Regions from separate parts of the Homo sapiens genome. Here region 1 is linked to region 2. The links come from fine-mapping of genetic effects on gene expression. A gene starts in region 2. The other region holds a variant in brackets. All regions are shown on one strand. Distances are between the middles of the regions. Region 1 overlaps VPS26B (VPS26 retromer complex component B). Region 2 holds the start of ACAD8 (acyl-CoA dehydrogenase family member 8).

The links. PIP is the estimated chance that this variant, and not a neighbour inherited with it, causes the effect.
Region 1: its variant is the best candidate, but not a certain one, in a credible set for the expression of ACAD8 in monocytes after LPS (Kim-Hellmuth 2017, PIP 0.51).

The regions. Positions count from the first base shown.
Region 1 is chr11:134,227,527-134,232,526 of GRCh38, reverse strand. The region is part of intron 1 of VPS26B (VPS26 retromer complex component B); the gene reads right to left. Among named protein-coding and RNA genes, the nearest start is that of VPS26B, 5.4 kb to the right of the region's middle. The variant C/T (reference allele first, on the strand shown) is at 1,922.
Region 2 is chr11:134,251,393-134,256,919 of GRCh38, reverse strand. It overlaps ACAD8 (acyl-CoA dehydrogenase family member 8), which reads right to left and starts at 3,352. Exons shown (of 11, transcript NM_014384.3): 1 at 3,211-3,352; 2 at 272-372. The coding sequence starts at 3,319. THYN1 (thymocyte nuclear protein 1) reads left to right here and starts at 3,568. Exons shown (of 7, transcript NM_014174.3): 1 at 3,568-4,080. The coding sequence starts at 4,038. RefSeq lists an enhancer at 3,438-3,807.

The sequences.
Region 1 (5,000 bases), 24 kb after region 2:
ACGTTCTCCCTAGTGCCTTTCCTCCTGCACACATGTTAATATCAGCTCTGACATCAAATGTCATGGAAGAGTGGCCAGTGTGCAGTCACAGCAGGGCTGGCCTGGCCTTTTTAATCTATCCTTTATAAGCCATCTGCAATACTTCTGCAAACACTGTGGGGCAAAGGGGCAGACACAGCGATGCTTCCTATTTGCCAGAAAGTTTGGTTTCCTCTTGCATAAATTAAAACAAAAATCCAAGGCTGTTCTCACGAGAGGTCTGGGCCCTAAAGAGATTGTAAATAGCCTCTATTCCGTCCCAAAGAAGCAACCACGCGTCATCTTTCATTCTTCCCAATCACCAGTCCTCAGGGACCAGACGTGTCAGGCTAGAAGTAGGAACTGAGTAAGTTTTTGGTTAAGGTAACTATCCTGTCTTTGGTTTCCTTCTCAGTCCAACAGGAGGAAATAACTTTTGTACTCAGGATGTTTTCATGGTGAAACTTGCCACCAACAGTTGAGAAGTGAATTTGCCATTCTGGAAGGAAACTGAGCCAGCTTTGCATCACAGGTCACCCATGACAGCCGCCCTGAGCTTTGCTGCTTGGCTAAGGCCATGTTTAGTCTAGGCCTCGTGCAGTTTTGGAAGAAACCTAAGTCAGCAAAGCATAAAAAGACCTCCAAAGGCCAGGCGTAGTGGTTCATGCCTGTAATCCCAGCACTTTGGGAGGCCAAGGCGGGTGGATCACGAGGTCAGGAGTTTGAGACCAGCCTGGCCAAGACGGTGAAACCCTGTCACTACTAAAAATACACAGATTAGCCAGACGAGGTGGTGGGCATCTGTAATCCCAGCTACTCGGGAGGCTGAGGCAGGAGAATTGCTTGAATCCGGGAGGCAGAGGTTGCAGTGAGCTGAGATTGTGCCATTGCACTCTATCCTGGGCGACAGAGCAAGACTCCGTCTCAAAAAAAAAAAAAAGCCCTCCAAAGAGCCTCCTCTTCATCTGACCCTCCCAGCCACTGTCTGCTGGCTGGCCACTGTCAGGATTCGTGCTTACCACACCCTACTCCTGTCTGCCAACCCTGTGAAACCCAGAAGCACTGGCACCTCTGAGCGGCCCACGCCTCACCAGGCGCAGCTCTGCTCCAGTCCCACCAGCAGCTTGTTAAGTAGGCCAGAATCAATCCACCTCATCTTAATGTGCCTTTTACTTAGTGTTTCAAGGGCTAATGAATTAAAATACAGAAAGCCCCTGGAGTTTTTAAAAGTATGGGCTTGATTGGTATTAATGGGCTTATTAAAACCTAAAAAAAAAAAAAAATCCAGATAATGTCTGTTGGCTTTGGAGTGCAGGGATGTTCCTGTCTGCCCTCCTCCGCATGTCTGACCTTCTAATTACGTTTGGTTTATTTAACCCATTAGTCTCCAAGGCGGCCCAGGTCTGCTTTCTAAACTTCACTGGTGTTCCCCAAAGGATTCCAGCTCAACAACGGTCTCTTCTTCTCACAGTTACAGTTTTTCCTTGCAGTGCTCCTTACAGACTACTGCATCTTCCTAAAGACGTGGGCCAGTAGGATGACTAGGTCTTAGACCTTTCTGTCCCATGGGCCTGACCCAAGAGATGCCCTCACCACATGTGTTGGCATTGTTAGAACACAGACCAAGCCACTGGAAAAGTATCCTAGGTACAGGAAGGATCCCAGTGTGGCTCGAAAACTTGCAGAGGATAACAGAAAAACGTCCACCACATAAGTGAATAAATAAGATATTATAGTCTCAGGAGGCAACGTTCAAACTGCCACATCTGAGCAGTGGTGCAGGACCAAACGGGCCAGAGGTTTGACAACTCTTACGTTCTTACACACAAGGGGATATCAGTTTCAACTTGGCACAGAAGAGTGTGAGGAAAGAAAGATGTAAAGGCAGGTAAACTGACATCAG[C/T]TTTAATACTTCCTTATCCCAGTTCCCCCAGTGAGGACGCAGCCCCAGTGGGGGCACACCAGCTGGAGAGTCACCGAGTTGTCAGTGGCCTTGATGGACAACCACATGTTGCTCATCAATGCCTCCTCCACAACAAAGGCAGGAAGCTCAGCTGCTCAACCACCAAAACAAACCTGATTTCTGTCTTTCTTTCATTAAAACAACTCTTGCTTATCTGGGAGGAGATGTGGGAAAAGGAAAGAAAACAAAATGAAACAAAACAACAACAAAGAATAGTTTCTGTAAATTCTTAGATTTGACCAATATATCCATTCAACAAATATTTACTAGGCACCTTCTATGTGCTAGCCACTGCACTAATGATGGGCTGAAGGCAGTCCCTGGATCTCAGGTGCTCAGAAATTAGTAAGAAAGACAGACAAGTTTTTTAAAAAAGTCACAAGCTTGTCATACCCGGCTTGAAAAGAGGTATTAATGAGGCCTCTGGAAGAACAGTGGAGGAAGCACTTAAGTCAGCCTGGGGAAGTCAGAGAAGACTTTCTGATGGATGTGATGTTAGCTAGGCTTTGAAGGAGTAAGAGCTTGGGTGGAAGGTTATATCTTGCAGAAAGATGTTACTATACAAAGGGAAAATACCAAGATTCCAGAAGAAAAGGATAGTTTGTGGAACCCACAAGCGGTGAGAGTGAAGGGTTAGGGGAGACGAGGCTGGAAAGAGAGGGAGGGCCAGAGCAGGAGGGATTTGGATATACTTTCCCCCATTAACCAATAGGGAGGCGAGAATTTTAAGAAAGGACTGACAATGATAGAACTGCCTTTAAGAAACTTCATCCTCACAGAAAATGACCTGAAAGGGGAGGAAGACAAAGGCAGGAAGACCACTTAGGAAGCTGCTACAAACAGAAAATAAAAGGCAGTGGCATTGAGAAGAGAGAGGAGACACTGGTTTGAGATATACTGCAGAACCAGCAGAGAAGGCCAAAACTTAGCAGCCAACTGCATGTGTGGGAGGAGGAGCCAAGACTTCAAAATGACTTCTAGATTTCTGAGGCTAAATGATCCCAGCTGACATAGGCCGAAATGGGGAAAAAAGGAGACGCAGTGGGGCTGTGGCTGAAGCAGAGACAGAGAGAGGGGTTTGTGTTTGCATGCATTACTGAGGCACCTGTAGGGTATCCCGGTGGACATGTCTAGCAGACAGCTTCAAAGACGTGTGAAACTCAGAAGAGAGGTCGGGTCAGAACAAAGAAACAGTCTGGGAGTCATCAGAATATAATTCATGGGGCTCAGCACAGTGACTCATGTATGTAATCCCAGCACTCTGGGAGGCCAAGGCAGGAGGATCGCTTGAGTTCCAGACCAGCCTGGGCAATAAAGACAGACCCTGTCTCTACATAAAATTTAAAAAATTAGCTGGGTATGGTGGCATGCACCTGTAGTCTCAGCTACTTGGGAGGCAGAGATGGGAGGATTGCTTGAGCCCAGGGGGTTGAGGCTGCAGTGAGCTGTGATCGTGGCACTGCACTCTAGCCTGGGTGACGGAGTGAGACCATGTCTCAAAAAATTTTTTAAATAAAAAACAAAGAAAATAAGTCATCGGTGCAGATGAGATTGCCACAGCAAGTGACAGGATAAAAGTGACACCTCTGCCTGCCTGCCTCCAAATTAACAAGGAAGAGGGACAGAGCTCAGTGCTATCAACTTGATTACTGCCATATGCCACCCCGTCAGCCAGACCTCAGAACAGACTGAAGTTCCACCCATCTCACACATAGTCAAAGAATGCAATGAAGGAGAAAACCACACGACCGCAGCTTCAGCAAACTCACTCACTAGCCTCGCTCTGGTGCCCCAAGCTCAGTTTACAATGACTGACACAGGTGTATGACACAAATACTTCACAACATGCTTCTTTCGGGGAACCAGGAAGATAAAATAGGAGGAATATAAGAGTTTAAGAAAAGTCACTCTGTGCCTCCAAATAGACTTCCAAATAGTACATCTTCACTCCCTGTCAATGTGTGTATTTCAGGAACACAAACTCCCTTTTACATCGAATAGAACTACAAAGGTTATTCTAATGCCTTGTTCTTGATCAAGAAATACATCCCAAAGCCAAATAATAAGAAACATATTGTCTAAGAAAAGTCACTCTGTGCCTCCAAATAGACTTCCAAATAGTACATCTTTACTCCCTGTCCATGTGTGTATTTCAGGAACACAAACTCCCTTTTACATCGAATAGAACTACAAAGGTTATTCTAATGCCTTGTTCTTGATCAAGAAATACATCCCAAAGCCAAATAATAAGAAACATGTTGTCTAAGAAAAGTCACTCTGTGCCTCCAAATAGACTTCCAAATAGTACATCTTTACTCCCTGTCCATGTGTGTATTTCAGGAACACAAACTCCCTTTTACATCAAATAGAACTACAAAGGTTATTCTAATGCCTTGTTCTTGATCAAGAAATACATCCCAAAGCCAAATAATCAGAAACATATTGTCCATCATTCTGTGTTATTCTACTTCCATGTCCTCACGTAACCATGGATAATTGAGCGTGAACAATATACTTCAGCACAAAGCTGGGACTGGCTCCATCTACAACACCAACTGAGACTGGCCCATGTGGCCAAAGTAAGAAATTTAAGGCAAAGGGTTGAAACATGCACTCCTTATCAGTAGACAGGGCGATCTTCTTCAGGTAAAACAGGTACAGGAGGAAGAGCAGCAAGCCAGTGGGTGATAACTCAATTTGTGAAATGGAAACATTTTACTACAACTACCATAATTTTATAAAGGAACCCTCTATAAGGGTCATGCATGATCCCCTGGCATGCCCAACATTCTCACCAAGTGATGTTATTTTCCTTGCTTGGTAGCTGAGAAAGCCGAGGCCCAGAGAGTGGCTAAATTCCCCCAGTCTCATGGTCAACTCAGTGCAGGGTGGCCAAGGGCCCGGGAAGAGTTACTAGTGGAAGCAACAAAAGGTTCTGAGAAAATTCAGCAGGGATGATGGATGTCTCAGGAGTAAGGAGATAGACAAGAAATCAGGTGGGGCAGGAACAGCAAGCAGT
Region 2 (5,527 bases):
AACTTGTTCTGGCATTAAGAAGTTTCTTTTTATTATCTATAGAACTGCCTTAGTTTTATATCCAAATCTTTATTCAACTAACAAAAAAAAAGTTATGTACAAGATGATCAGGATGCCTTCTAGGAAAAATCATCCACTACCGGTATTCTCACTTGCAGTAAGAGTTGGTAAGTGGAGGAGACATTTAACAATTACATTATCAGGAGACAAAGATAAAGGTCTGCCTGAGACATCTGTTGTTAGAACGTCTAAGCACAAGAAAAACGCCTACCTTCTGGTCCCACTCTGCCATATTTGGAGCCATCTCTCGGGCAGCAAAGTCAAAGGCCACTTTTTGAAATTCTTTCTGCTCTTCATTAAGTCCCATGGAAGCTGTGGGCAGGATTGCATATACTGTTCTAGGACAGGGTCAGTGTTGCCAACAAGGTGTTGCCAACAAGAAGCACCACGAAGTTGTGAAAGTGGATCTACTGTAGTATTTCCCATACACGGTATAGCCTTTAACAGCTAGAGAATGGCAGCTTCTGTCGTTATTCCACTTGTCATATGGAGAAAGGACAGTTCTAGCACACATCCAGATCAACCTAGAACAGGATAGGGGACTTCCAGACATCTCTTATCCTAGCACTTAGTAAAATGCAGTTGTAGACCTAGAGGTTGAGGCCACAGTGCTAGAACTTTGGTCATTATAACTGACACTGAAGAGCACTATGGGCTGGGCGTGATGGTTCACGCCTATAATCCCAGCACTTCAGGAGGCCGAGGCGGGCAGATCACCTGAGGTCAGGAGCTCAAGACCAGCCTGACCAACATGGAAAAACCCCGCCTCTACTAAAAATACAAAAATTAGCTGGGTGTGGTGGCGCATGCCTGTAATCCCAGCTACTTTGGGAGGGTGAGACAGGAGAATCGCTTGAACCCAGGAGGCAGAGGTTGCAGTGAGCTGAGATTGTGCCATTGCACTCTAGCCTGGGTGACAGAGCAAGACTCTGTTTCAAAAGAAGAAAAAAAGAAAAAAGAGCACTATGGGAAGACTATGGCGCCACACTTGGCAATAATTTACTTCAGTGCCTACAAGCGATGCAGTCCTCACAGAAGAACACAAGGGCAGGTGCCAGAGTCTGTTCCTTGGGGCAAATCTGGGCATCAGTAATGGCTGGCTATGCGAGCCTGGAGAGGGCACTGCTTTCTGTGATCAGTACTCTCATTAAAATGGGAAAGTCAGAAATGAAGAGTTCTGAGGATTAACGATTAGGCTGCCTTGAGAAACTCAGAGCAGAAACCTATGTTGGGTATTACCCTCAGGAACAGAGTTAGGGATAAACAATTCATGGTTCTCTGACTGGGGTCAGGCCATTTATTCACACAATTTTGTACAAGGGTTGCTGTTACTGTAGACCATGGCTCAAAGATCATTTCCAAAAGAATGTTTATTGGGTGTTTACTAGGTAGCAGTGCTGGGGTTACAAAAATAAATATGATCCAGCCAGGCGCAGTGGCTCATGCCTGTAATCCCAGACTTTGGGGAGGCCAAGGCAGGTGGATCACTTGAGGTCAGGAGTTCAAGTCCAGCTTGTCCAACATGGTGAAACCCCGTCTCTACTAAAAATATAAAAATTAGCTGGGCATGGTGGCATGTGCTGTAATCCCAGCTACTTGGGAGGCTGAGGCACAAGAATTGCTTGAACCCGTGGGGCAGAGGTTGCGGTGAGTTGAGATCGCACCACTGTACTCCAGCCTGGGCAACAGAAAGAGACTCCATCTCAAAAAAATAAATAAATAAGATCCATTCACACAAAGGATGACTATTTCAATCCTAGCAAGAGCTCATTAAATGTTAACAAATCTTCTTCTTCTGTAAATGGCTACTTCCTAAAACAAATAGTTCAAGGAACCACAGGCTTAAGAAATAAATCTGAGTTGCATTCTAATGGAAGGAAATAGTTTTATGCAAATCATATGCATAAGTAAACACAAGTTCCCAGAAGGAAATACAGTATAAAAACAAAACAAATACCACCACTCATGAACTTTGCCAGTTACTAGCAGAGTTCAAGATGCCAATACATAGTTACTAGCAGAGCTCAAGATGCCAATACATATACACTAAAAAGGTAAAGCTAAATAGAAAAACACTCCAAATGAAATGGGAAAAGCCTTTGACTGCAGAGCCACTCAAGTGTAAGCAAGATGCAAACAATAACAAAACCCACCTCTAAATAATTCCTTATCTGCTTCGGTATCAACCAGGGTAATCTGGGTTATCAAATTCTAAGCGCTAGGCCAGGGCAGCACCTCTTGAATGAGTTTTAGGACATTCAGAAGAAAACAGTATTCTATGCCTTACTGTACTTTATAGATCTGATATCTAAGGGACTTATTCTGTTGTAAAGAAAACTGCCATTTATTTAAAATAAATTTAAAAATATTTCAGAAGAAAAAAGTGTTTATAAACATTCTTGGCAGAGAAGTCACAAACTGGCCGGGTCTCCACCACTCCTCGCTACATTCAAATTACTGTTCAGAGCCTAAAGACACTCAAGTTTGTCAGCTCTGGTAGAGTTTCCCACTGGCAATAATAATTATTTTTCCTGCATGAGTTTCAACACTAAAAGTGTCTTATAGCCAGAGGTGTTAAGATACCAAATCTTTGTGTGTGAGCAAATCTTGTATGACCTGGAGTTCTTGTGCAGTTGTCACCATCAGCACCCAGCCAGCTTCTTATATTCTCACTGCTTTTATGACCTACTGTTATGATTAAAAACCAACCAACCCAACAACAACCAAGCCCCAAGTTTCTTCACTTCTCTAAGCATCCGAGGGTGACCGGCCGCAGGAGGACCCGGGCCGGAGGGGAACCTGCGGGGGGATGACCGGCCGGAGGGGAACCTGCGGGGGGTGACCGGCCGGAGGAGGACCGGGGCGGGGGTGACCGGCCGGAGGAGGACCGGGGCGGGGGTGACCGGCCGGAGGAGGACCCGGGCAGGGGTGACGGGCCAGATGGGGACCCGGATGGTGGTGACCGACCGGAGGGGGCAGCCAGGCCGGGGGTGACCGGCCGGAGTAGGGAGCCAGGCCGGGGGGGTGACTGGCCGGAAGGGGAGCTGACGCCGGGGTGACTGGATGGAACGGGGAGACTGCAGCCCCTCGCGGACATATGTCCGCCGGGGTTCTGGACACCTGTCCTACTGCCCGCCAGGAGATCCTTACGGTCGATGCAGGAGGTCAAGCTCCGGTGGCCGGTCTGGACGAGGACCCGGAGACCGCCGGGCAGGCAGCCGAGGCGCGCCCCGAAACGCCGGCAGCCGCTCCACAGCATAGCCGCCGCAGCTCCGCGTTCAGCTAAGAGTCTGAACGCCTTCGACCTCCGTTGCGCTCGCACTGGCGGGACCTGCGACCCGGCAACGCCTGTCCCACTGCACCCTGGGGGTTGTAGTCCTCCCACGAGCCCTAACAACCCAGGTGCCAGGCGGGCTCCCAAGGGGACAGGACTACAATTCCCAGAAGTCCTCGGGGCCTCGGCGCCGCAGAGATGCACCGCCCACCAAGCGCCGCGGGGGTCGCGCTGCACAGCCTGCGGCGCAGCGGAGGCGGACCGCAGTCGAGTCTGCAGAGTGTTGGGTCTGTAGCCAGCAAATTACTTCATCATCTAGATTATCCATTCAGTTGATCCTAATTAGCAAGGATAACAAGGTAACACAAGGCTTACTTATATTCACCCAACAAAAGTGTCTCTGTGGAGCCACTTCCCAGTGAACTACATACTGAGATAGGGGTTCCTGGATGAGAAGGACCAAGGACAGAACCGAGAAGAGTTTAGGGGCAGGTTATGCGAGATGGAAATGGCGCAGATAACGGAGGGAAGGATTTGAGGGCTCAAACGTAGGCGTCTGTGTTTCGCAAAAGTTGGAGACGTTCTAGGCTGCCTCTCGTTGCCTCCATCTCGCTCTGCGCGGGTTTTGGAGGACATTAGCATTCTTTCTTGTATCTCCGTTGATTCCAGAATCGTCCGCACTAAAGTCCCCTGCAGCGTGACCATGTCGAGACCCCGGAAGAGGCTGGCTGGGACTTCTGGTTCAGGTGAGCTGCCCCTAGGCTGCACAAAGGCAGCCCAAGAAAAAACTTTTCTCGAAGAGCCTGTTTAGTACTCATTTTTCACTCCCTGCTTTTTGAGAACCCTTTGTGATATTTTTACTCCATTATCCTTAATCACTCTCCATCTTCTTTACTTGTCTCACCAAGCTCCTACCTACAGTTCCTTTTTCTTGTTTATTCAGGCAATGGTTGTTGTGCACAAAGACTCTTTGAGATACCAGGTGGCGTGCTAAAGAATATAAAGCGCCTGCTTGCGGGTGAACTGCAAACAGATGTGATGGGGTTCAGGAAAATGGATTGTTAAGTTTATGGAGGGAGGAATCACGGGGAAGGCCTCGAGAAGGATGTGGAATTTGAGCCCAGCCTTGAAGAATGGGAGACTTTCCACGGGCAAAGTTTAGTACTAAGAAAACGTGATGTCGTTTTTATAATCACAAAGATGGATGGCATTCTAAGTGGATGGAGGAGGAGGAACATTGGAAGGTACAGAAAGTACCTCTTTTGGGAATGACAGGGGTTCCAGATATACTACAGCACATTGCAGTTATTTATCAATATGTGGTGTTTGCAGTGGGCCTGTTAACTCCTAAGGGGCCATTAGGAAACTAGGTTAGGAAGGTATGCTGGGTTCAGAGCATTAGACAGCCATAAATGGTATTTAATGACAATTGATGTAGGGACTTTGACTAAATTCAGAGGCAGTATAGTCATTAAGTAGCTTCAGATAGACCTCAGTGACAGGTGCTGACCTCATATCTTGATTCCACCATTACTGGATGTGTGATCTGGAGCATGCTTCCCAGATGAAGAGTAGAACATCTCACAGGTTATGTAGATTAACCGAGTTAGGGTTAGGGTAACACATAGACCTTGGGCCCTGTCATATAGTAATTTAACAACTTAGCTACTGAATGCCTACTGTGTTCCAGGCACATTCTGATTGTCTTGGGATGAAATCGAATCATCACCATTTTTCTACAATGTCCTGAATGAACTGTTTCTTTCAACTTTTATTGGCACCTTCAAGGAGCAGAAAGGAGATGGGCCAGGAGCCACAGTGAGCAAGAAGGAAAGACGTATGAGATGAGAATAATAATGCTTTTATTATGCACTTATTGTAATGCCAGGCATTGTCTAGGCCCTTTGTATTACCTCATTTAAGCTTCAAAATAGTTGCAAGTAGGTGCTCAGTTTCCTCTTTCCTATGCAAAGGCATAGAAGAGAGAGTGAGGAAAGGAAAACATGTATTGACTACTGTCCGGACCTTTAATCCTGAACAACCCTGTAAGGTGTTCTTACCCTATTGAATAGATAATCCAGAAGATACCCTGTAAGGTAGGTATTCTTGTCTAATTTTTATAGATAAGGAAAGCTTCTTAACAGTAAGATTAAGTTCCTACAGCTGGTAATGGATCCATGATTTGAATCCAGG